7 linked regions of the Homo sapiens genome follow. The protein of the gene in region 6 purifies or fractionates together with the protein of the main gene of each other region. This does not show direct contact. Each region holds a gene or a part of one and is shown on either strand. Other genes may lie near its edges. The genes, in order: KIF11, LSR, UCKL1, ARHGAP1, CMAS, RDX and CTTN.

Evidence for each region.
Region 1: the proteins of RDX (region 6) and KIF11 purify together in Homo sapiens (affinity purification with mass spectrometry; one large-scale study listed by BioGRID and IntAct). This does not show direct contact.
Region 2: the proteins of RDX (region 6) and LSR fractionate together in Homo sapiens (co-fractionation; one large-scale study listed by BioGRID). This does not show direct contact.
Region 3: the proteins of RDX (region 6) and UCKL1 purify together in Homo sapiens (affinity purification with mass spectrometry; one large-scale study listed by BioGRID and IntAct). This does not show direct contact.
Region 4: the proteins of RDX (region 6) and ARHGAP1 fractionate together in Homo sapiens (co-fractionation; one large-scale study listed by BioGRID). This does not show direct contact.
Region 5: the proteins of RDX (region 6) and CMAS fractionate together in Homo sapiens (co-fractionation; one large-scale study listed by BioGRID). This does not show direct contact.
Region 7: the proteins of RDX (region 6) and CTTN fractionate together in Homo sapiens (co-fractionation; 2 studies listed by BioGRID). This does not show direct contact.

Annotation. Positions count from the first base shown.
Region 1 is NC_000010.11:92,599,630-92,603,129, forward strand, and holds part of KIF11 (kinesin-like protein KIF11), read left to right. Parts: intron 1-3,500. UniProt on the Homo sapiens protein: Motor protein required for establishing a bipolar spindle and thus contributing to chromosome congression during mitosis. Required in non-mitotic cells for transport of secretory proteins from the Golgi complex to the cell surface.
Region 2 is NC_000019.10:35,259,002-35,262,501, reverse strand, and holds part of LSR (lipolysis-stimulated lipoprotein receptor isoform 2 precursor), read right to left. Parts: coding exon 3,438-3,500; intron 3,432-3,437; exon of another isoform or gene 2,681-3,431; intron 1,504-2,680; exon of another isoform or gene 1,100-1,503; intron 578-1,099; coding exon 521-577; intron 1-520. UniProt on the Homo sapiens protein: Probable role in the clearance of triglyceride-rich lipoprotein from blood. Binds chylomicrons, LDL and VLDL in presence of free fatty acids and allows their subsequent uptake in the cells.
Region 3 is NC_000020.11:63,942,917-63,946,416, forward strand, and holds part of UCKL1 (uridine-cytidine kinase-like 1), read right to left. Parts: intron 3,352-3,500; coding exon 3,245-3,351; intron 3,084-3,244; coding exon of another isoform or gene 3,060-3,083; coding exon 2,889-3,059; intron 2,807-2,888; coding exon 2,735-2,806; intron 2,611-2,734; exon of another isoform or gene 2,167-2,610; intron 1,819-2,166; coding exon 1,629-1,818; intron 1,543-1,628; coding exon 1,481-1,542; intron 1,106-1,480; coding exon of another isoform or gene 950-1,105; exon of another isoform or gene 754-949; coding exon 737-753; exon of another isoform or gene 641-736; intron 1-640.
Region 4 is NC_000011.10:46,690,620-46,694,119, forward strand, and holds part of ARHGAP1 (rho GTPase-activating protein 1), read right to left. Parts: intron 1-3,500. UniProt on the Homo sapiens protein: GTPase activator for the Rho, Rac and Cdc42 proteins, converting them to the putatively inactive GDP-bound state. Cdc42 seems to be the preferred substrate.
Region 5 is NC_000012.12:22,052,718-22,056,217, reverse strand, and holds part of CMAS (N-acylneuraminate cytidylyltransferase), read right to left. Parts: intron 1,070-3,500; coding exon 927-1,069; intron 764-926; coding exon 608-763; intron 1-607. UniProt on the Homo sapiens protein: Catalyzes the activation of N-acetylneuraminic acid (NeuNAc) to cytidine 5'-monophosphate N-acetylneuraminic acid (CMP-NeuNAc), a substrate required for the addition of sialic acid.
Region 6 is NC_000011.10:110,290,115-110,293,614, reverse strand, and holds part of RDX (radixin), read left to right. Parts: intron 1-3,500. UniProt on the Homo sapiens protein: Probably plays a crucial role in the binding of the barbed end of actin filaments to the plasma membrane.
Region 7 is NC_000011.10:70,419,029-70,422,528, reverse strand, and holds part of CTTN (src substrate cortactin), read right to left. Parts: intron 2,784-3,500; coding exon 2,673-2,783; intron 2,130-2,672; coding exon 2,019-2,129; intron 1,060-2,018; coding exon 949-1,059; intron 21-948; coding exon of another isoform or gene 1-20.

The sequences.
Region 1 (3,500 bases), on a different chromosome or scaffold from region 6:
TGTGTGTGTAATTTTAGAGTTTTCTTTTCTTTTTTTTTTTTTGAGATGGAGTCTCGCTTTGTTGCCAGGCTGGAGTGCAGTGGCGCGATCTCGGCTCACTGCAACCTCTACCTCCCAGGTTCAAGCAATTCTCCTGCCTCAGCCTCCCGAGTAGCTGGGACTACAGGCACACGCTACGACGCCCAGCTAATTTTTGTATTTTTAGTAGAGACGGGGTTTCACCATGTTGGCCAGGATGGTCTCGATCTCTTGACCTCGTGATCCACCTGCCTCAGCCTCCCAAAGTTCTGGGATTACAGCCGTGAGCCACTGTGCCTGGCTTTTTTTTTTTTTTAATTAACTATTGAACTTCTGTTTATTATTATTATTATTATTTATTTATTTATTATTTTTTGAGATGAAATCTCGGTCTGTTGCCCAGGCGGGAGTGCAGTGGTGTGATCTCGGCTCACTGCAACCTCCGCCTCCCGGGTTCAAGCAATTCTGTGCCTCAGCCTCCGGAGTAGCTGGGATTATAGGCGCTCGCCACCATGCCCGGCCAATTTTTGTATTTTTAGTAGAGATAGGGTTTCATCATGTTGGTCAGGCTGGTCTTGAACTCCTGACCTCGTGATCCGCCCGCTTCGGCCTCCCAAAGTGTTGGGATTACAGGCGTGAGCCACTGCACTTGGCCTTATTTTTATTATTTTTTTCATCAACTTTTAAGTTCTGGGGTACATGTGCATGATGTGCAGGTTTATCACATAGGTAAACCTGTGCCATCACAGTTTGCTGCACAGATCAACCCATCACCTAGCTATTAAGCCCAGCATCCACTAGCTATTCTTCTTGATGCTCTAGCTCCTTTTGCCCCACTGAATTTTAGGGTTTTCTTTCTTTTCTATTTTTTTTTCTTTTGAGACAGACTCTCGCTCTGTCACCAGGCTGGAGTGCAGTGGCACAATCTTGGCTCATTGCAACCTCTGCCTCCTGGGTTCAAGCGATTCTCCTGCCTCAGCCTCCCGAGTAGCTGGGACTACAGGCATGCGCCCATGCCTAGCTAAGTTTTTGTAGTTTTAGTAGAGACAGGGTTTCACTATGTTGGCAAGGCTGGTCTCAAACTCCTGACCTCAAGTCCCCTTGGGGTTCCTGAAGTACTGGGATTATAGGTGTGAGCCACCACGCCCGGCCAGATTTTCTATATAAAAGATCATATAATCTGCAGACAGATAATTTTACTTTTTCCTTTTCTTTCTTTTTTTCTTTTTTTGAGATGGAGTCTCGCTCTGTCGCCCAGGCTGGAGCGCGGTGGCGCCATCTCTGCTTACTGTTACCTCTGCCTCCTGGGTTCAAGCAGTTCTCTGCCTCAGCCTCCCAAGTAGCTGGGATTACATGCACATGCCACCACGCCCAGCTAATTTTTGTATTTTTAGTAGAGATGGGAGTTCATCATCTTGGCTAGGCTGGTCTTGAACTCCTGACCTCGTGATCCATCCGCCTTGGCCTCCCAAAGTGCTGGGATTACAGGCATGAGCCACCGCTCTTGGCCCTCAACCTTTTCCTTTTCAATTTGGATGCCTTTTATTTTTATTTTTCTTCCTTTTTTTTTTGAGATGGAGTCTCGCTCTGTTGCCCAGGCTGGAATGCAGTGGTGCAATCTCTGCTCACTGCAACCTACGCCTCCTGGGTTCAAACGATTCTCCTGCCTCAGCCTTCCGAGTAGCTTGTACTACAGGCATGTGCCACCATAAACAGCTAATTTTTTTTTTTTCTCGTATTTTTAGTAGAGACGGGGTTTCGCCGTTTTAGCCAGGCTGGTCTCGATCTCCTGACCTCGCGATCCGCCTGCCTCAGCCTTCCAAAGTGCTGGGATTACAGGCGTGAGCCACCATGCCCGGCCCTTGTTTTTCTTTCTTGCCTAATTACTCTAGCTAGAACTTACAGTATTATGTCGAATGGAAGTGGCAAAAGTGGGCATTGGGCATCCTTGTCTTGCTCCTGTTCTTTTATTTGTTAGTTTGTTTGAGATCCTCCTGCCTCAGTTTCCTGAGTAGCTGGGACTATAGACACACTACTACACCCAGCTAATTAAAAAAATAATTTTTTTTTTTTTTTTAGAGATGGGGTCTCGCTATGTTTCCCATGCTGATCCTGAACTCCTGGCTTCGGGTGATCCTCTACTCTTACCCTCCCATAGTGCTGTGATTACAGGCATGAACCACTGTGCTGGCCCTGTTCTTGTTTTTAGAGGAACATTCTTCAGTCTTTGACCATCAATTATGTTTGCTGTGGGTTTTTCATATGTTGCTTTTATTTTGTTGAGGTAGTTTCACTCTATTCCTAGTTTGTTGAGCATTTTTATGACTAATGGGTTTTGAATTTTGTCACATGCTTTTCCTGCATCGATTGACATGATTCTGTGGTTTCCTTCATTCTGTTAATGTGGTATATTACATTGATCAATTTTTACATGTTGGACCATCCCTGTATTCCAGGAATAAATCCCACTTGGTCATGGTGTATAATCCTTGTGCTGCTCAGTTCAATGTGTTGGTATTTTGTTGAGGATTTTTTTTTATCAGTGTTCATAAGGGATAGTGATCTGTAGTTTTCTTGTAGTTGCCTTTGTCTGGCTTTGGTATCAGGGTAATGCTTGCCTCACAAAATGAGTTGGGAAGTGTTCTCTCCTTTGCCAGATTTTTTCTGGGAAAAGATTGAGAAGAACTGGTATTAGATCTTCTTGAAATGTTTTATAGAATTCACCTATGAAACTATCAGATCTAGGGCTTTTCTTTGTCAGGAGATTTTTGGTTAGTGAGTCCATCTCTTTACTGGTTATAGCTCCATTCAGAATTTCCATTTCTTTGTGATTTAGTCTTTGTAAGTATTGTGTTTCTAGGAATTTGTTCAGCTGGGTTATCCGATTTGTTGGCATACAATTGTTGAAAATACTCTTTCAACAATAAGAGAGAAGACACAAATAACTAGTTCTTTTGTTTCCAGTTCCTTAAGTTGTAAAGTTAGGGTGTTGATATGAGATCTTTCTTGCTTTTTAATGTAAGCATTCATAGCTATAAATTTCCCCCTTAGCACTGCTTTTGCTGTGTCCCGTAAGTTTTGGTATGTTGTATTTTCATTTTCATTAATCTCTAAAATTTTCTAATTTTCCTTGTGATGTCTTTGAACCCTGGTTACTTAAACACACACACACACACACGTGTGTGTGTGTGTGTGTGTGTGTGTGTGTGGTTTTTTGTTTGTTTTGAGACTGAGTTTCGCTCTTGTTGCCCAGGCTGGGGTGCAATGGCGCGATCTCGGCTCACTGCAACCTCTGCCTCCCGGTTCAAGCGATTCTCCTGTCTCAGCCTCCAGAGTAGCTGGGATTACAGGCGCCTGCCACCACGCCTGGCTAATTTCACACACACATTTAAAAAATACATCTACCTGCTTTTACTTCAGAATCTTTGCAATTTCTGTTCTCTCTGCCTGAAAATTTTTTCCACCAAAATATCTACAGGGCC
Region 2 (3,500 bases), on a different chromosome or scaffold from region 6:
ACAGGGCTAACGGCACAGCAGGGGTACATGGTGCGGAGCCAGCACTGAGGTCGGGGACGATTTGCAAAGCTCACCAAGGAACCTGCAGCCCTGGCTGGATTTTTTGTGCCAGAGGCTGGGCACAGCACACTCCCCATTCTACCATCCCGGCCATTCCCCAGTTACGGCCCTCCCCCAGGTGCAAAAAACACAAGGCAGAAAACGAGGCAGCCTGCACAGAGGGAGACAGACTGCAGCCCCCAGACCAAAGAGAGAGCCAGCTGCCCAGACGCCACACCCTCAAGAGCACCGCAGGTGCCAGTCACAGAGCCCTGGCCTGCACCCCAGGCTCTCCTCAGCCCAGCCTAGCCTAGGCCCAGCGCCAGACCACTAGATGCCTCAGAGCCACAGTCAGGCCAGGTTAGTGAGGGGTCCACAGTGAGCAGGGTTTAGTGGGGAAGGGGATACTAACTAGAGTCAGAAGCAGTAGGTGATGTATGGGAGCTCCCGAGAAGCCCAACTCAGGATCCACCCCCCGTACCTTCTATGGGCCCCGCCTGAAAACCAGGTAAGAGCTCAGCCACCCCTGAGGTCCTCCCTGGAGGGACAAAAGAGAAACAGATTATGCTGGCCAGAGCCAGCCCAGGCTGTGCCACCCCCGAAAGCCCAGCTCCAGGCTGGCCAAGTGCAAGGTGTGCCCTGAAGCGGGAAGGGGCTGGGGGCTGAAGCCCTAGTGCATGGCTCCTACCCTCCACCCGCCCACATGTGGGTGCTTATAGGTAAGAAACTCCCATTGCATAATCCACCTGTGTTATGCCACGAGGGCTCCAATACAAATCCCAGGGGGTTCTGAGGGCTCTACCTCAGCTTGGGCACCCTAAGTTTCCCTCATTCATAGGTCTTAGCACCCCAAAGGGCTCCAACCACGGTGATAGGGATGTCCTGTTCCAGCAGGCACAGGGACCTAGGGCCCACGAAATAGGATCTCAGCTCTGTCGCCCAGTCTGGAGTGCAGGGGTGTGATCATGGCTCACTGCAGCTTCAACCTCGTGGGCTCAGGCGATCCTCCCACCTCAGCCTCTGGGGTAAGTAGCTAGGGCTACAGGCATGTGTCACCACACCTGGCTGAAATGGTTTAATTTTACTTTACAAATCTGAACACAAATTAACACAATATACAGGAATAAACTCTTTGTGACAACATAATCACACATTTTTTTTAAAACAGGAAGGGACCCATGAAGGCAAAAATACCCACATATGAAAGTCATATGCAGTCCTGGTTCTGGGACCCACAAGGTCTCCATCTCTACTCATGCACTGTCACATTCACGCATCTCAGAGCCGGTTCTTGTCTTCCCTCGAGTGCCCCTGGAGCTCTGAGCCCCACCAGTGTTGTGTCTGAGGGGCCTCCACAGGCCCAGCTCTGCACCCACGAAGCCCTCCCCAGAGCTCATGCACTTGGCACTATAGGCCCTCGCAACAGGACAGAGGCATGTCAGTCACAGCTCTCAAAGCGTGGTCCTGTCCACAAGGCCAAAAGAAGAAATTTTAGAATAACACTAAGATGTTATTTGCCTTTTTCACTTGTTCTCCCATGAATGTCCAGTAGAGTTTCCCAGGCTCCCTGATGCCATCATCGCCCTGATGCCTAATGGACTATATGCGTGTGTGTGTGTGTGTGTGTGTTTGTGTTTCTTGAGCCAGGGTCTCTGTCACTCATGCTAGAGTGCAGTAGCATAGTCACGGCTCACTGCAGCCTTGACCTCCTGGGTGCAAGCGATACTCCTGCCTCAGCCTCCCAAGAAGCTGGGCTCACAGGTGCATGCCACCATGCCTGGTTAATTTTAAAATTTTTTGTAGAGTCAGGGTCTTGCCATGTTGCCCAGTCTTCCTTGTGTATCTTGGGCTTGAAAAATCTCCCCATTTTAAGGCCGGGCAGTGGCTCATGCCTGTAATCCCAGCACTTTGGGAGGCCCAGGTGGGTGGATCACGAGGTCAGGAGATCGAGACCATCCTGGCTAACATGGTGAAACCCAGTCTCTACTAAAAATACAAAAAAAATTAGCCGGGTGTGGTGGCGGGTGCCTGTAGTCCCAGCTACCTGGGAGGCTGAGGCAGGAGAATGGCGTGAACCCAGGAGGTGAAGCTTGCAGTGAGCCGAGATCGAGCCACTGCACTCCAGCCTGGGCGACAGAACGAGACTCCATCTCAAAAAAAAAAAAAAAAAAGGAAAATCTCCCCATTTTAATTCCTAATATGTTAAGCAACAGATAGACATAAAACCCACAGAAACAAACAAAAGCTCTTGGAGACCCTCGATAATGTTTTAGAGTGTAAATAGACCTGGAGACTAATTTTGGGAACTGCTGATGCAAATGGTGCATTTTACCGAAGAACAGGCAGAGGTTCCTGGGTCACTGGTGCACGTGTTCCATCCCCCACACATGAACTCTGTCTTGCAGCCCAAGTACCCCCCAGTCACGTGCTCATTCACACATGTGAAGATGGCAGTGTACAGCCCAGCGGCATCACTCATGCAGAGCACATGTCATACAAGACTCCATGTGTTGGCTTACAGCAGGGCACCTGGCCGATGGCAACATCCCCCTAACACAAGGAGGCCTCCCAGCCACACGGACACCCCGCCCTGCCCCTGGGTGTCTGGAATCGGCTTCGTTTCAGCTGCACTCAAACTTACACAGTGTGTGTGCCATGCAGCGCCATCCCAGCAGGGCACACGGCAAAACCGCTGTGCTTTGGCGAGGGACTCGGGTGAGATGAGGCCTTGGGGATGTAGCAAGAGGTGGGTCGATTTTGCACACCATCAACTGTCCTCATTCACTGCCCATGGACTCTGACCACGTCTGGATTTTTTTTTTTTTTGGACAGAGTCTCACTCTGTCGCCCAGGCTGGAGTGCAGTGGCTTGATCTTGGCTTACTGCATCCTCTGCCTCCCAGGTTCAAGCAATCCTCATGCCTCAGCCTTCTGAGTAACTGGGATTACAGGCATGTGCACCACCACGCCTGGCTTTTATATTTTTTATAGAGACGGGATTTTGCCACGTTGGCCAGGCTAGTCTCGAACTCCTGGCCTCAAGTGATCCACCCGCCTCGGCCTCCCAAAGTGCTGGGATTACAGGCATGAACTACCGCACCCGGACCCCAAGTCTGGATTTTTTTTAAAAATGAGACTTTGAAAAGGCAGAGTCTCCAATTGTCTCCACTCTTCTCTTAGTTTGGCTTGGGTGATTGGAGGCACTGTGGGCCAGTGGTCCCTGCCTGGGGTGCAGGGCACAGGGGAGCCTAAGTGACTGGCAGAGCCTGGGGGAGAGCAGAGCAGGCGACAGAGCCCAGAGGGTAAGCTGGAGGGCAGAGGGCGGACACAGGGGAGGGCAGACAGAACAGAAGCGGACAAAAGGAAGGGCCATGCCTCCCCCTTCCCAGGCCCACTCACCAAGGACGATGAGCTCTGCGTAGGCCTCATTGTTCCCCTGGAGGTCCTGGGCTGAGACCACGG
Region 3 (3,500 bases), on a different chromosome or scaffold from region 6:
GGACGGGCCCTGGAGGCATTTCCAACATTTGGCAAACTCTTTGGAGGGCTCTGAATGTGAGGGCTCTCCCTCCAGGTGGCTCAGTCAGGAGCCTCCCAACCCACAGAAGGCAGGGAGAAGGGCAGGTCCCTTGTGGCTGACCCCCCTGCATGCCTGCCCTTGGGGAGGGACAGTGGGATGCGGCCCCGGCCCAGCCCAAGCTTCTTGCTGCAGTTGCCCAGTTCCTGCTGGCAGAGCTGTGCGGGCTGCGAGGACAGAGCTGGGGCAAGCAGGACCCGGGTGGGTGGGAGGACAGGCGCGAGGCCCTCCACCTGCAACCAGGGAAAGCTGACTGGTCCGTGAGGCTGGGCACAGGAGGTACAGCAGGCTCCCTGGCTGCTGGGACATGTCTGTAGTCACTGCCCCAGAGGCCTGGCAGTGCTGGCTCAGGAGGACAGCTGTGCTCTCTGGGGTCAAATCCCATAGACAGACTCAGGAGTCAGGGGAGCCTCCAGCAAAGTCTGGCCAGGACAGGGTCAGGACTCCGTGACGCTGGGCAAGCTACTTCACGTCTCTGTGCCTCAGTGTCCTCATCTGCCAGCAAGGGGAGGCAGAAGCAGGGCTGGGACCACTCCACACCACCCCTTCTGTGACTGGGGAAGAGCCAGCTGCCTGGCTGGATCACAGCCCAGACCCCAGAGCTCCTTGGAGGTGTTGGAAGTGCCTCCATCTGTGCAGACAGCTGTGCAAGTCTTACCTGACGCTGAGTTCACGCTGTGGCAGCAACACAGGAAGACACAAGGGAACGGTGGCGCGTCAGTGACCAGGGCAGGCGGCCAGGCCACCCCCACCCAGGAATGGACATGCTGCAGGCCCGCGGGGACACAGCCAGCCATGGGGGGTGGCAAGCTTCTAATGCCTGTAACCTGGGGACCACCTGGGCCAGACCTGCAGTTCTGCGTTGGGGCAATCAGAGCCAGGACCCTGGGCTCTGTTCTGCAGGCCTCAGGCCTTCAACATCCTGGTAGGGAGTGTGTTCAGAGCCACTCAGGCTCCAAGGCCCAGCCATAGAATGCCTCAGGGAGCAGGGGACCTCTGGTGGGGGTGTCGCTCCTGGGGTGACCCCCTGAGAAAGAGAGGAGCCTGGCCTGGCGTGGGACTCAGCAGTGAAACCCCACAATCCTGGGCCAGCAGGTCATGCCTGTCTTCCCAAAAGCTCAGGCTGGGTGTGCTGAGCGGGCTGCACCCTCGGCTGGGTCCTGAGCACCTGTACCCCCACCCCAGCTTCCTCAGGGAACCCAGGCCCTGCACAGCACAACGGGATGGGGTCTGGGCTGGACAATCTGACTGGCCAAGCAGGCTCAGGACACTCAGGGCTGGCACCTGGCAGGGGACAGTGAACGCAGGGGGATGAGGTGACCAGGCCACTGGGGGTGGTGGCAGCGGAGAAGTGGGTAGAGGGGCTGGGGGCTAGGCCGTGGGGACGTGGGACCCCGCTCACCTCCTCCAGCTGGCTGTGCACGTGCTGCACAATCAGGTCGATGGCCACCGTGTTGCCGCTCCCTGGGGCGGGATGGGGGGGCGGGTGACCGGGGGCTGGGCCGTTGGCCTGCCCGACACCCACCCAACAGGCAGCCCAGCAGGCTCACCTCTGGGGACCACGATGTCTGCCAGGCGCATGGTGGGCTGGATGTACTGGTCGAAGGAGGGCTTGACAAACTTGTTGTACTGCTTGATGACACCCTCGATGTCCCGGCCGCGCTCACTGATGTCCCGGCGCAGCCGCCGTACCAGGCGGATGTCGGAGTCTGTGTCCACAAAGATCTTCATGTCCAGGAGCTGGTGGAGACAGCGGGCCAGTGAGTGGCCAGATGCCAGCAGTGGGCATGGAGACACTGGGACCAGCCCCTGCACTGAGGCCGCCTGGTCCGTGGGCCTGGCCAGAGCCACTTCCCCAGGGCACCCTGGCAGGTGGGGAGGAGTGGGGAGGTGGGGGTGTCTGCACCTGGTCCGTGGGCCTGGCCCGAGCCACTTCCCCAGGGCACCCTGGCAGGTGGGAAGGAGTGGGGAGGTGGGGGTGTCTGGGGATGCGGTGCTGCCCGTCAGGGGCTTAGGTGAAGAGGCATGGCATGGTGGCTGGCTAAGGAATCAGGCAGGAATGGGGCTGGGCACATGTGATCTCCTTACTTTGCTTGGGGTAACTTGCACCAACACACTGGGGAATGGGGGACGTGGCGAGTTTAGGGTCTGTCCCCATGCTCAGCACACAGTAGTTGGCCCGTGAAGAGGCCTTGTGGAGGCTGGGGGCTGCTATGTGCCGGATGATGGAGTCCTCTGGGCCTGTACAAGGGGCAGGACCTGGGCCCTGGGATCAGGCCAACCTGAGTCACACTCAGCTGTGTCCTGAAGGCCCCCTTGAGCTACAGCAAAATCTCTCAAACACACCAGCCCTGGGTCCTCACCTGTCCGTCAGGACCACGGCAAGGGACGAGAACGCCAAGGACACTCCAGGTATGCGCACAGGCCTCAGCCGGTGGAGAGGAACCACTGCCTCAGGCAGCCACGCTCTGCCTTTTGGGGCCGGCAGATGGACCCAGCTGTGGCATGCCTGGGGTTGGGGTTGGGGTAGGGAGTGGCTGGCCTAGGCCTATACAGTGTGGAGGCCTTGGGGACAGGGCAGGAGGACGCACACCTCATGGACAGGGCGGCCAGGGCTGAGATACCAGCGGGGTGGGTATTCCCGGCGGGTGCTTACCTCCAACAGTGTCTTGTCAGCAAAGGCCATGATGCCCTCAAAGATGATGACGTTTGCACCATACAGTGTTTTCTGTGAAGAAACCCAGGAGTTGCGGAGCCTGGCTCATGTGCCTGCAGCCCCCCGAGGCCCCCTCTGCAGGGCCCTGGCCTACCCAGTCCTTCTTCCGGCTGTGCGTGGTGAAGTCATAAATGGGCACCTTGACACTCTTCCCCTGCTTCAGCTTCTTGAGGGTGGAAATGATGAGGTCGAAGTCAAAGGCATCTGGGTGGTCGAAGTTGAAGTTGTTGTGTGCGGCCTGTTCCTGCTGCTGCTCAGTCAGCACCTGGTGGGGGAGGCTGTGGAGCAGCTGTGGGCACAGTAGGGCCCTCACCCAATGCCAGCGGACAGGGGCTCTAGGCCTCCCAGGAGCAGCCACGCTGGGGCTGAGACCAGGGACCTACTTTTGCAGGGGGTCCAGGGTCAGGGAGAGGACAAAGGGGTCCTCGGGGGAGCTGGGCGGGGGCCCACCTTGTAGAAGGAGTCCATGGACAGCAAGACCACCCAGGGCACATCCAGGGCCTCGATGATCATTCTGGCCACAGTGGTCTTCCCAGAGGCACTGCCGCCTCCCAAGCCTGCCGGCGGGAGTGGAGACCCTCTGTGAGGAACAGGCAGGCTGCCGGCACAGATAGGTCCCAGAGGTGCCCATCCCGCTGCCGCTGCCTGCGGTTGCCCGGCTTCCTTCTCCTGCTCCACAGGCACTGGAGGGGAGCCGGAGGCAGGC
Region 4 (3,500 bases), about 64 Mb from region 6:
CCCCCACCAACCCTTAAGACTCAATGCAGGCATAATCGCCGCCTGGAATCCTGTGTCCTCGCCCTCTCTCCCCAGACAGGTTAGCTGCCCCTTTTCATGGCTCCCAGCATAAACCGTCACCCATCACTGTCCTGACCCTTCACTCTCCTGTAGAATTGTTTATGTACCTGTCTCCCTGACAGGCTTGTGAGCAGCTCAAAGACAGAGGCTGTGTCTCATTGTCTTTGTTTGTTCTTTTTCTTTGTTTACTCCTGGCAAGCTGTGATTTTTTTTTTTTTAAGAGACAGGGTCTTGCTCTGTCACCCAGGCTGAAGTGCAGTGGCATAACTGTAGCTCACTGCAGCCTTGAACTCCTGGGCTCAAACAATCCTCCTGCTTTAGCCTCCCATGTCCTGAGTAGCTAGGACTACAGGCACATGCCATCCCACCTGCTTAATTAAAAACAATTTTTTGAGACAGAATCTTGTTATGTTGCCCAGGCTAGTCTTGAACTCCTGCCTCAGCTTTCCAGTAGCTGGGATTACAGTTGCGTACCATGGCACCTACAGTCTCCAGTACTGGTCCAGTGTCTGGCATGTGGCAGGTATTCAATACGTTTTGGTAGCCTGCACAAAATCGCAGGTCACCATTAAACTATGGGATGCCTGGTTCTAGTTATATTTCTGTGTTTGTTCTTCTTTTTTTTCTGAGATGGAGTCTCTATCATCCAGGCTGGAGTGCTGTGGAGTGATCTGGGCTCACTGCAACCACCACCTCCTAAGTTCAAGAGATTCTCCTGCCTCAGCCTCCCAAGTAGCAGGGACTACAGGCAGGTGCCAGCACACCAGGCTAATTTTTTTTTTTTTTTTTTTGAGATGGAGTTTTGCTCGTTACCCAGGCTGGAGTGCAATGGCGCGATCTCGGCTCACTGCAACCTTTGCGTCCCGGGTTCAAGTGATTCTCCTGCCCCAGCATCCTGAGTAGCTAGGACTACAGGCATGTCCCACCACACCCAGCTAATTTTTGTATTTTTAGTAGAGACGGGGTTTCACCATGTTTGTCAGGCTGGTCTCAAACTCCCGACCTCAGGTGATCTGCTCGCCTCAGCCTCCCAAAATGCTATGATTACAGGTGTGAGCCACCATGCCCAGCCTTAATTTTTGTATTTTAGTAGAGACAGGGTTTCACCATGTTAGCCAGGCTGGTCTCCAACTCCTGACCTCAGATGATCTGCACGCCTCAGCCTCCCAAAGTATTGGGATTATAGGCATGAGCCACAGCACCTGGCCTCTGTGTTTGTTCTTGATTATGCTTTGGTTATGGGTCAGACTGCTTCAGATAGTGAGTTTCCCAAAGCTCAGGACAGAACGTCTCCAGATTTGCAAGTAGAGAATCCTCTACCAGCTTGTCTGCAGAGGAGGTGCAGCTCCATCCCGGCAGGTCTGTTTTGAAGGACCAGGTGGTACCTGCTCTCTTTCGTACCCTAGCCTAGATCCTGAGGTGCTGAGATCCCGGAGGCCAGCTGGGGGTGGCTCTGGGGCTATGTGCCTGCTCTGATTCACTTCCCACTGGCTCTGACAGTGGAAGGAAAAGCAGACTGGCAGGGGCCAGGGACAAAGGGTTAGACTGGCAAGCCCAGTCTCACTAGTCTGGAGCTTCAGAAACCCCAGAGATGCCTACCACCAGCCTGGGAAGAGGGGGCCTCATCTGCCTACCTCCTTCTAAGCGAGGAAATAACCAGGATTTGGGGGAAATGCTCGAGGACAATGGGGGCTACCAAAAGGATCTTTCCTTCCAGCCCATGAGTCCCCGCACCTCACATCTGCACCAGCAGCAAGGCAGGCCTCATTGGCTGGCAGATTTGAGGATTCAGCCAGGGCAGAAAGTCTGTGAGGCCCCTGGGTCTAAAATATAAGAGGTAGCAACTGGTTAGGGAAGCTGTTGGGGGGAGGGCTGGAGGCCTGTGGTGTCTCCTCTCAGCTGGCCACAGCACTTTGTAAGTGGGAAGCTTTGGGTTCTGAACCAGGGCTCCACCAATGTGCTCAGCAGACACAGCACCTCCATGATGTTATATGACAAATATTACAAGCATGTGCACTTTTTTTTTTTGAGACAGTCTCGCTCTGTCGCTCAGGCTGAAGTGAAGTGGCGTGATCTCAGCTCACTGCAACCTCTACCTCCTGGGTTCAAACGATTCTCCTGCCTCAGCCTCCTGAGTAGCTGGGATTACAGGCATGCACCACCACACCCAGCTAATTTTTTTTTTTTTTTTGAGACGGCGTCTCGCTCTGTTGCCCAGGCTGGAGTGCAGTGGCACGATCTCCGCTCACTGCAAGCTCCGCCTCCCGGGTTCACGCTATTCTCCTGCCTCAGGCTCCTGAGTAGCTGGGACTACAGGCGCCCGCCACCACGCCCAGAAAATTTTTTGTATTTTTAGTAGAGACGGGGTTTCACTGTGTTAGCCAGGATGGTCTCGATCTCCTGACCTCATGATCCGCCCGCCTCGGCCTCCCAAAATGCTGGGATTATAGGGATGAGCCACCGCGCCTGGCCTTAACCCCAGCTAATTTTGTATTTTTAGTAGAGACGGGGTTTCTCCGTGTTCATCAGGCTGGTCTCGAACTCCTGACCTCGTGATCCACCAGCCTTGGCTTCCCAAAGTGCTGGGATTACTAGGTGTGAGCCACCGCACCTGGCTGCACTTTTTTTTTTTTTCAGTCAAAGAGATCCCCCCTATCCTGGGGATACCTTTCATAGTTGCAAAGTGGACTGTGACCAGTTTTAAGAACCACTTCACTAGACTGTAATCTTTTTTTTTTTTCTTTGAGCCAGGATCTTGCTCTATCACCCAGGCTGGAGTGCAGTGGTTCAATCATAGCTCACTGCAGCCTCCAACTCCTGGACTGAAAGGATCCTCCCACCTCAGCCTCCCAAGTAGCTAGGACTACAGGCACAGGCTACCACACCTGGCTAATTTATTGTTATTATTTTTGTAGAGACAGGGTTTCACTATGTTGCCCAGGCTGGTCCTAACTCCAGGGTGGCCCTGGAGTTAATCACCAACAGGTCTCCCCAGGCATTCTGGGCCCCCTCAAACCAGCCCCACCCACAACCGGACCAGCAGGCCTGGGACCTGGGAGGTAGGGCTGGGCTGATGGAGCCAGTCATGTGCTACAGCCAGCTCACACATTTGTTAAGCTGTTCAACTGTCAGGAATTTTGCAAGCCAGTTGACATCATGTTGGTAGCTAGAGAGCTGGGAGGCAGAAACTGCAAATGCTACAAATCATGGCCTTTTTCCCCCTCTCCAGAGAGCCATTTACCAGCACACCACTGGAAAGAACCCACTGGGACTGAGCCAAATCTGACCCTGGGGCATGACAACTATTCCCGGCAGGGAGAGCTGAGGCTATAACCCACCCTCCCTTCCTACAAGGGCTTCTCCCGGACATCTCCACGGTCTCACCAAATGAGTGCCTGGTGATGCCAATCCAGCCTCCTCTCAGCAATCAGGGAGGCACA
Region 5 (3,500 bases), on a different chromosome or scaffold from region 6:
ATGACCTTTTTTTAAAATGGATAAAAAAATGGAAAATTTCAACAGAAAATGGAATCCCTACGAAACAACTAAAATGTACATTACTGAATGGAAAAACACAGTGTTTATAATAATTCTCTGGATAAGATTTATAGCACACTGGACATGGCAGGCAAAATGCCTAGTAAACCCTAGGGAACCCTTCTTATATATGGAGTTAGGAATTTGGGGAAGAACTTCAAAATGTCATTCTTGAAATCCTTCAGAACACTTTGGTGGATGCTTTCTATCTCTATATGACTTGTATGGAGTTCATCAAACATGTCTAGAACAAACATAAAAGTATTTGATCTAGAAAAACAGCATATCTGCCTCAAAAGGCAAACAGAAATAAGAGGATTAGAATGTCCCTTTGTAAAGAGTAAAGCAAAGAATTAATTTGGTCTAGCTGTGTTGGCTCGATAACAGATTTACAGCTGATTGTAAATGTCATTACCTACTAAAGTAATGAGTCAAATACTCTCTTTTACAGCTCCCCTTTTACTCTCCTCATGCCTAAAGGATATTTATATACAAAAAAATTGATTCTCAATAAAATCAGCTAAAATAAAGACTGAAAAGAGATTACCTCCTTTCTGAATTTCACTCCATCGAAACTGATGGCGTCTCACAACAGAGAAAACAGAATCATATCCTTCTTCTCGAATCATTTCTGCAACTTTTTGAAGATCAGTAGGATGTAAACATGGAGAAGTAGCTTGAATATTTCCTACAATGTCAACCTCTTAAAAAGACAAGAGAAATGAAAAGGATATTTAAAAAAAAAGTTCCTTGCAAGCAAGTAATATTAAGGTTTGGAATTCAAATGTTAAAACAAGTCTTATAAGATAATAAAGGAAGTAGAAAAGTACATAAAGGTTTGAATAAACTATTAATCAAATTCATACCATTATGATAATTAAGAAATTCTATGATGGCATCTAGTGAGGTAGAGCTGTCTTTTGAAACTTCAGAACTTCTTCGATGAACTTGTGCACCAAATTGTTTGGCCACATTCTCAATTTCATCATGGTCTGTCGAAACCCATACACTGTTCAGATATCAAAAGAAATTAACAGCCAAATCAAAAGAAATCATTAACAATAAAATGGAGCTCTGTAACCATAAAATACAGCTTATATAATGTGAGAATATTTTTTGCACAATGATAATAATGTTACAGATCCAAAGGAGTATAAAATGTAAGAAATTATAAAGTATTTTGTATATAAATATATTAATGAATAAAAATGCAGTCCTAGATATGCTTTATATAAAGAAAGGAACAACAGACACTGGGGCCTACTTGAGGGTAGAGGGTGGGAGGAGGGTGAGGATCAAAAAACTACCTATCAGGTACTATGCTTACTACCTGAATGACGAAATAATCTGTACACCGAACCCCTGCAACATGCAACTTACCTCTGTAACAAGCCTGATGTACCCCTGAACCTAAAATAAACGTTTTTAAAAAGGCACTAGAAGTCAAATCTAAAGAAAATTAAAGATCTTGCTTATTCTCCATCCAAATCCAAAATATTGTATAAAATATTTTAATATGCTTGCTAAAAAAAAAAAAATGGACTTGGCTTAGCCAAACCCTAAAGGTGAAACAGTTTCAAGCTTAGAAGATAATAAATGCCCAAGTCTGGGCTCAAAAAAAATCAGATGAAACAACTCTTTCTTTTTTAAACAACAAACAATGGGTATATAGATGTAGAATCAGCTGGGTTATAGCCATTGATAACAACAAACATGAAGAACATGACTTCATTAGCTCAAAAGAATTTAACTTAATACTCTATTAACCGCAGGTTACACAGTTGCCTATTTAGCCTTTACAAAATGATGAGTAGGCAAAATGCTGTTTTGGAGAGGGGTACCAGTTTCTATTGAAGTTTTGTTTCCTGGACAGTCACAAATTCCCACTGCTAAATGCAGAAGATGTAAATACTACTCTAGCCACAATGTTTGGTCAGGCCTGGAGTCTCACACCTGTAATCCCAACACTTTGGGAAGCCGAGGCGGGTGGATCACCTGAGGTCACGAGATGGAGACCAGCCTGGCCAACACGGTGAAACCCGGACTCTACTAAACATACAAAAATTAGCTGGGCATGGTGATGCACACCTGTAATCCCAGCTACTAGGGAGGCTGAGACAGGAGGATCGCTTGAACCTGGGAGGCAGAGGTTGCAGTGAGCCGAGATCGCGCCACTGCACTCCAGCCTGAGAGACACAGCGAGACCCTGTCTCAAAAAAAAAGACAAAAAACAACAACAAAACCCTGCCATGTTTTTTTGTTTTGTTTTGTTTTGTTTTGAGACGGAGTCTCGCTGTGTCTCCCAGGTTGGAGTGCAGTGGCGCGATCTCGGCTCACTGCAAGCTCCGCCTCCCAGGTTCATGCCATTCTCCTGCCTCAGCCTCCCAAGTAGCTGGGACTACAGGCGCCCGCCAACACGCCCGGCTAATTTTTTGTATTTTTAGTAGAAACGGGGTTTCACCGTGTTAGCCAAGATGGTCTCGATCTCCTGACCTCGTGATCCGCCCGTCTCGGCCTCCCAAAGTGCTAGGATTACAGGCGTGAGCCACCGTGCCCGGCCCCCACCATGTTTTAATAGTGATTTATGCAAAGATATCTTAATGACTTATAGTCTTTGGTGTATGTGTGTGTATATATATATATATATTTGGTGTGTATATATATATATACACACACAAACATATATACACATTATTTTATATACATACAAAATTATATATAACGTGTATATATAATGTGTATATATAATGTGTATATGTGTGTGTGTATATGTATACATATACACACACACATATATATTTTTCCTTTTATCCCACTCTTTCGATATCTACTGAGGGAAAGATGAACTGCATGTTTTGTTTGTTTTTTTGACAGAGTCTTGCTCTGTCACCCAGGCTGGAGTACAGTGGCCCATTATCTGCTCACTGCAACCTCCACCTCCCAGGTTCAAGCGATTCTCATGCCTTAGGCTCCTGAGTAGCTGGGATTAGATTACAGGCATGTGTCACCACGCCCGACCAATTTTTAGTAAAGATGGGGTTTTGCCATGTTGGCCAGGATGGTCTCAAACTCCTGACCTCAAGTGACCCTCCCACCTCAGCCTCCCAAAATGCTAGGATTACAGGTGTAAGCCACCACGCTCGGCTGAACTGCATGTTTGTCTATGCTCAATTATCATGAGTGGAAAGAAAGTGAAAAACTAAAGAAAATCTTCTAACATCCCTGGATTTCATTTATTTATTTCGTTTATTCCCTTTAATATTTATAGAGGGATTTAAATCAAGGGATAAAGTCAGTAAGAAAAAATAATCAAAGAAAGCCTAGCAAACAAGATGAGCCACTGGCTAGGGGTCAAGAATCCCGTGATATCTACTTATGTCACTCTATGCAGGGCGAACGCAGGAGCCCCCATTTTCCTCCATCTTGAAATCTGAAATAGT
Region 6 (3,500 bases):
AGATTATTTTAAGTCTCATGGCATTACTGATCCAGCTGAAGACTGTTCTGGTAACTTCCTTGATTGCTGCAGCCAGGGTGTGCGTACTGCTTTGATGATAGAGGTGTCCAATCTGGCCCCAGAGAGTTCCTCAATTTCTAGCCTATTTTAGAGAAATCCTGCCTTTCCTACTTTAAGTTCCTGGTGTATATCTTTATATTGAATGTATAGCTTAAGCCATTTAAAAAAAACTATAAAAGTGATATATTTTATGGCAAAGTTTAAAAACTCAGAAAAATGTCAAGGAAAAGGTCAAAGTCCTCCTTACTCCCTGGAACACCCCAGCCCCTTTCCCAGTCCTGTTTTCCATAGGTAGCTGCTGTCGGCAATTCCTTGTTTATAGAAAATGCCAGTAGGTATGCAGGGATAAACATATACTTTATATCCCTTATTTGTGATTTTAAAGTCTTGTTAAAATAGGGTTATATTGTAACAGACATTGAAAGGATGCTTATTAACTTGTGTTAAACATTGAGTAAATCATATTTCTCATGTTTTCATCATTTGAATAAAAGCACACAATAGAATTCCCTACGCTAATTCTCAAGTGTGTGTATGTGCAAATTTGTTTGTGTACAGATTTTCTTGATTAATGATTGAAGATGAAGTTTACTTTTTGTTTTCTAGCATATGGCATATAGTTGACAATGAGAAATGGTGTCTTTTAAAAAAGGAGGTTTATAATTTGGTGTGGGAAATAGCCACATCTTGCTCTTTACAAAAAAAGTTTGCCAACTCCTTAGAAAAAACATCCTGTTGAAAGGATATTTTAGATACAGTATTGAAGAAACAGGTACTTCATTGTTTATTTTCTCTAAGATTATAGAATTTATAAAGCTATTAGTAATTGAGATAATGGACTGTTTTCTTCTGAGTTGTAGATAATCTCTATGGCTTTCAGGACCTTAAATGTTTTTTTTTTTTAATTTATTTGTGAAAAGTTTAAGTCAACTAGGACTGACTGCAGGTAAATTTGTGAAGTGAGCGCTCTTCAGTTTTGAGCCCTTAGATCCTTTAAGATGCATTGGCATCAAATAGCAGAAAATTCTCCAACTGGTTTAAACAATGAGGAAATTTAATGTCATTTTTTTCTTCATTTTTTTTTGAAAACAGAGTCTTCCTCTGTCACCCAAGCTGGAGTGCAGTGGCACTATTACAGCTCACTGCAGCCTTGACCTCCTGGGCTCAAGTGATCCTTTAAGTTCCTCCCACATCAGTCTCCCTAGTAGCTGCCAACACAGGCGTGTGCCACCATGCCTAGCTAATTTTTTTTTTTTTTTTCCAAGACAGGGTCTCGCTCTGTTGCCCAGGCTGGAATGCAGTGGCATGATCTCAGCTCACTACAGCCTCTGCCTCCAGGGTTCAAGCGATTCTCCTGCCTCAGCTTCCCTAGTAGCTGGGATTTAAGGCACATGCCACCAGGCCCGGCTAATTTTTGTATTTTTAGTAGAGACAGGGTGTTACCATGTTGGCCAGGCTGGTCTCAAACTCCTGACCTCAAGTGATCTGCCCGCCTTGGCCTCCCAGTGTGCTGGGATTACAGGTGTGAACCACTGTGCCTGGCCAACAACTAATTTTTTAAAAAGCCTTTTTGTAGATACGGGGTATCCCTATGTTGCCCAGGCTGGTCTCAAATGATCATCCTGCCTCAGACTTCCTGCCTTGGACTTTCTGCCTCGGCCTCCTGAAGTGCTGGGAGGATTACAGGTGTGAGCCACCATGCCTGGCCAAAATTTAATGTCTTGCATACTAAAAGTCCAGAGGCTCAAGAATGGTTCAATAATGACATCAAGGACTCCTTCTCTTTCCAACTCTCTTCCCTGTGATTTTCCCTATTAACTTCATACTAAGACAGCCCTTACCCATCTCAATTTGGCTGCTGCAAAGGAGCCAGGAGCGGTGGTGTGGACCTGTAGTCCCAGCTACTCAGAATGCTGAGGTTGGGGTATCACTTGAGCCTGGGAGGTCAAGCCTGCAGTTAGCCCCTTGTCCCAGTTTGGCTGCTGCATCCCATCCAGACAGGGCAGTATCCAAAGGAATAAGAGGAACTGTTTCCAGAAACCCCCAAGCAGATGTCTTTCGAGCCTCATTGGCCAGGATTGGGGCACATTCTATACCTAACCAGTCAACTGGCAAGGGTAATGGAATTGCCCTTTCTTCCAACTCTGTTCCCAATAGATACTTCTTTTTTCTTTTTCCTTCCTCCCTCCGTCCCTCCCTTTTTCCCTGTCTCCCTCCTTCTCTCTGTCACTGTCACCTCTCTGCTGCTGGAGTACAGTGGCATGATCATAGCTCCATGCCACGAACTCCAGGGCTTTGAACTCCGGGGCTCAGGCAGTCCTCCCACCTCAGCCTCTGGAGTAGCTAAGACTACATGTGCACACCACCATGCTTGGCTGATTTTAATTTTTTTTAGAGATACAGTTTCACTATGTTGCCCAGGCTAGTCTCAAACTTCTGGCCTCAAGTGATCCTCCTGCCTCAGCCTCCTAAAGTGCAGGCAACTGCACCCAGCCCTGTTATTTTCATTATTCATCTATATTACATGTCTTCGGTCCTTTTTTTACCCCCACCCAAAGTCATATCCAAAATTGATCCATTACAGATAGTCATATGTAGTGAGCTCATATCTTTGTAGGTACCAACTTCAGTTAAATTATGAAAGGAAAAGTGTTGATTCTTGTTAAAATACTTGGCAAATTGTGGTCCATGGGCTAAACCCAGCCTACTGCCTGTTTTTATAAAGTTTTATTTGAACACATCGTAGCTGACTTGTTTACATATTATCTATGGCTGCTTTCCTGCTACAACAGTAGAATGGTTTCAACAGAGACTGTGTGGCTTACAAAGCTTATAATGTTTACTTACCTGGCCCTTTACGGAAAAAGTTTGCCGACCACTGCTTTAAGATGTCAGTCGTACATTTGGACAGTTATTATATGCCACATACTCTTTGCATTTGAGAATGGAAAGATGAGTAAAATACTCAGGAGTTCTCACTCTAATGGGCAGATAGATGTGCCATATTGTATTCATAAAGTGTGTTAAGTGCTTTTTTTTTTTTCTTTTTGAGACTGTCTCTGTTGCCCAGGCCAGAGTGCGGTGGCTTGATTATAGCTCACTGTGACCTTGACCTCCCAGGCTGAAGTGATCCCTCCACCTCAGTCTCCCAAGTAGCTGGAACTATAGGAGCTTGCCACCACTCCCGGCTTTTTTATTTTTTGTAGACACGGGGTCTCACCATGTTGCCCAGGCTGTCCTGGGTTCAAGTGATCCTCCCGCCTCAGCCTCCCAAAGTGCTGGGATTACAGGCGTGAGCCACCACACCTGGCCTGTTAAGTGTCACAGTAGTGTGTATAAGTTAATTAATACTCCTTGCAGCAGCATTTTAAGCACAGTATTCTGTGCTGTGAGTTCTGGATGTTTCTTGCTTCCTCTGTTTTTTTTTCTTTGTTAAATCT
Region 7 (3,500 bases), about 40 Mb from region 6:
AATCGCAGTTTGTTCTCTTGCTTTTTAAGAGAAAAAAAAAATCCATGTGGAAATTCTACCAGCCAAAGACTTCCGTTGCAGCAACACAGATCCACATGAAAGTCACACTGTCATGCAGCAGTGATGCCACGGAGAGCCACTGCCATCTCCATGCAGTCTGCGGGACCACCCCAGGTGTGTCTACCTGCCCACACCTGAACACTGCTGTGTGTTTCTAACGCTGCAGGTGGAAAGCCTAGAGTCTTCCCTGCAAGGTTAGGGAATTACTGTTTTTCCAATTATGTGTTCAGGTTCTAATAACCAAGTCCAAATTTTGAAGGTAACAACATAACTGCTCTAAGGAAGGATGCAGAGCTGGCTTCACGTACATACTGTGTGGCTCTGTGTGGAGATGTTACACACATATGGTGTCATCAAACAGAACAAACAAAAAACCTCCCAACCCCGGCCAAAAACACCACCACAAATGAAACACAGAAACCACACAGAACACGCCTGTCTCCTGGCCCTTGCTGCTACGAAGCCCCTGGTCAAATGGCCAGTGGTTTGGTTGAACCAACACCTCTCTCCTCATCTGGAAGGCCTGACTCAGTGGCTCACGGCAGTCACCAATAACAGCAGAACAGCCTCGGGCAGAATGCTGCTGGAGACCGGAGATGCCCCAGTCCAGAGACTGGATGGGTCACCGGGTTAGAAAGATGGCACCCACACACTAACTGGCGCATCCTGCCATACACAGATCACAAGTTCACAGGGAAGAAAGTGAACCACTCAAAATCAGTGTCGCTCTACTAGAAATGGGTTTAAAGTGCCGAACAGCCTGACAGCTGACAAGTGGTGACACAGGAGGACTGTGTTGCAGGTGCTGACGGTGAGCCCTGAAGTCTGTGCTAGAAGTGGCCGCACAGGAGGGTCGGGGGGAGGGTAGGAGGCTGGTGGCAACTGTGCCTTGCTGGGACTCGTGCTTGGCCAGCTTCTCCTTGTAATCAAACCCCACAGCAGCGGAGTCCTGCCTCTCCGACTGAACACCGAATTTGCCTCCAAAACCAGTCTTATAATCTGAAAATCCACAAGCAACGGTGGGGAAAACAACCAAAAGAGGAAACACAGTTGGGTTAGAATTGCATGAGCATGCGCAAAAATCAAACACAGTTTCCAGAAAGCAAGGGCTCTCCTGAGCTTAGGGCCTTTGAGATCCTACTCCCAGGCTCAGCGCCAGAAGGTGGCTCCAGAGGTCAACGTTAAAGAATGAACTTAAAATCTGAACATTCAGCGAAGATCTGGAACAGCCTAAGAACTGTACTTCAAATAATTCAGTAAAGGCACTCCCGGCTGTGCAGTTCATTCTTAGCGTCCTACGCACACTGCAGACGAGTGTGCGTATCTGTGTACACGGGAGGAGAGACCCTGCAGATTCGGAGGGCGCTGCAGCCCCATTAGCCCCGCTCCTGCTTCTCTCAGGGCTGGGTCACACTGAGAGGCTTTCAGCCCCCTCAGGCTCCTTTTTCCAGGGAAGGGGCACCCATTCCAACAAGAAAACACTTTCGGTTCAAAAGTAAGTATCTCCTGCCAAAAACCGTGGCCCACTTTATAGACAAGAAGCCTGGATGAGGAGCACTGCAGGCTTGGCCCATGTCCCCACTCCCGGGTAAACCCAGCCCCCCGCTGCAGGCCTGACACATGCCCCCACTCCCGGGTAAACCCAGCCCCCCGCTGCAGGCTTGACCCATGTCCCCACTCCTGGGTAAACCCAGCCCCCTGCTGCAGGCTTGGCCCGTGCAACCCACTTCCAGGTAAACCCAGCTCTCTGGGGTACCACCCCGTGTCAGCAGGGAGGGTTTGTGACTACACTAGCTGGAGGGAACTGGGGGATTGGGGGGGCACACAGGACAACTTCAAACAGTGAAGACAAAACAATGTGCAGCAGGCACACGCAGACACAACACATACCAACTGACCCCGCAAGGAACAAAAACAAACTTCTAAAACCATCTCGCATACAGGCAGAGTGAATGTACCTTTTTGGGATTCATGCAGCTGCAATTTCTCCTGGTGATCCCAGCCAAGGGCACATTTGTCTTGTCTGTCTGTCTGCACACCAAATTTTCCTCCAAACCCTTTCACATAGTCTACATGCACAATGAAAGGCCAGAACCCATCATTAACAGGTAGTGCAGGTCACAGGTGGAAAGTATGTTTTCAATACAGTTAAACGCATATGATTCACTCAATCTACTCTTCCCTTCCGGATCTTTGGTAATACTTTAGATAACATCCATGAAGAGGCCCTCCTTGGAGAGTGGCAGGAAATAACCTAGTCTATGACCTCAGCATCGTGACTAAGCCAGACAGGACCCCATGGAAGCTCCCACGCATGCGGCTTCCACCCGCACCATGAGACAGCACAGGCTCACACGGGCAACACAGACGTGCGGGGTGTGGCCACCACGATAAGCAACGCCGCTGGGGCTGGAGCGCCATAACACTCAAGCTGCGAGTTCCTATTTAGCAGCTGTGTTTCTGGATGTGCCGTTTTCAAGTTGGGCATTTCATGAAAAAGAGACATCTACGTTAAGGGCTATCAATAACGCTTTGTTTTTCCTTTTCCGGTGTGGCTACCACCTGTCACATTACTAGCTGCTGGCTGGAGGGTAAGATAAAACGGAAGACACCTTTCTGGGACTCGTGCTTCTCCGTTTTGCCTTGATACTCAAAGCCAACGGCGCTCTTATCCACTTTGTCCTTGTCGATACCGTATTTGCCGCCGAAACCTTTGGAGTAATCTAAAAACAAACAAAAAAGGACTACTTTAAAAGGAGCAACGAAATCAGTGAACATGCAAGTATTTTATCCTTTGATTAAAAAAACAAAAATCTTTCAGGTCCACTGTAGGACCACTGAATAATACAGACAGTATTTAAAGGTGCTATTTATGTGTAATAACAGAAACACAAACAGTGGTAACCAGAGGTGGGGGTGTGTGCCTGCAGCCCAGCTACTCAGGAGGCTGAGAAGGGAGGATCACTTGAGCCCAGGAGGCGGAGTCCAGCCTGAGCAACATAGCAAGACCCCATCTCTAAGTTAAATCATTAGCTAATATTTTAAAAATTCAAAAAACAGGCTGGGGGAGGGGGCTCACGCCTGTAATCACAGCACTTTGGGAGGTCGAGGTGGGTGGATCACCTGAGGTCAGGGGTTTAAGTCCAGCCTGACCAACATTATGAAACCCCATCTCTACTAAAAATACAAAATTAGCTGGGCGTGGTGGCCCACACCTGTAATCCCAGCTACTCGGGAGGCTGAGGCAGAAGAATCACTGGAACCCAGGAGGTGAAGGTTGCAGTGAGCCGAGATTGCGCCACTGCACTCCAGCCTGAGCAACAAGAGTGAAACTCCATCTCAAAAAAAAAAAAAGAATTAAGAAAAAAAGTTTTTTTTTTTAAAGTACAGCAGAGGCTGGACACAGTGGCTCACACCTGTAATCCCAGCACTTTGGGAGG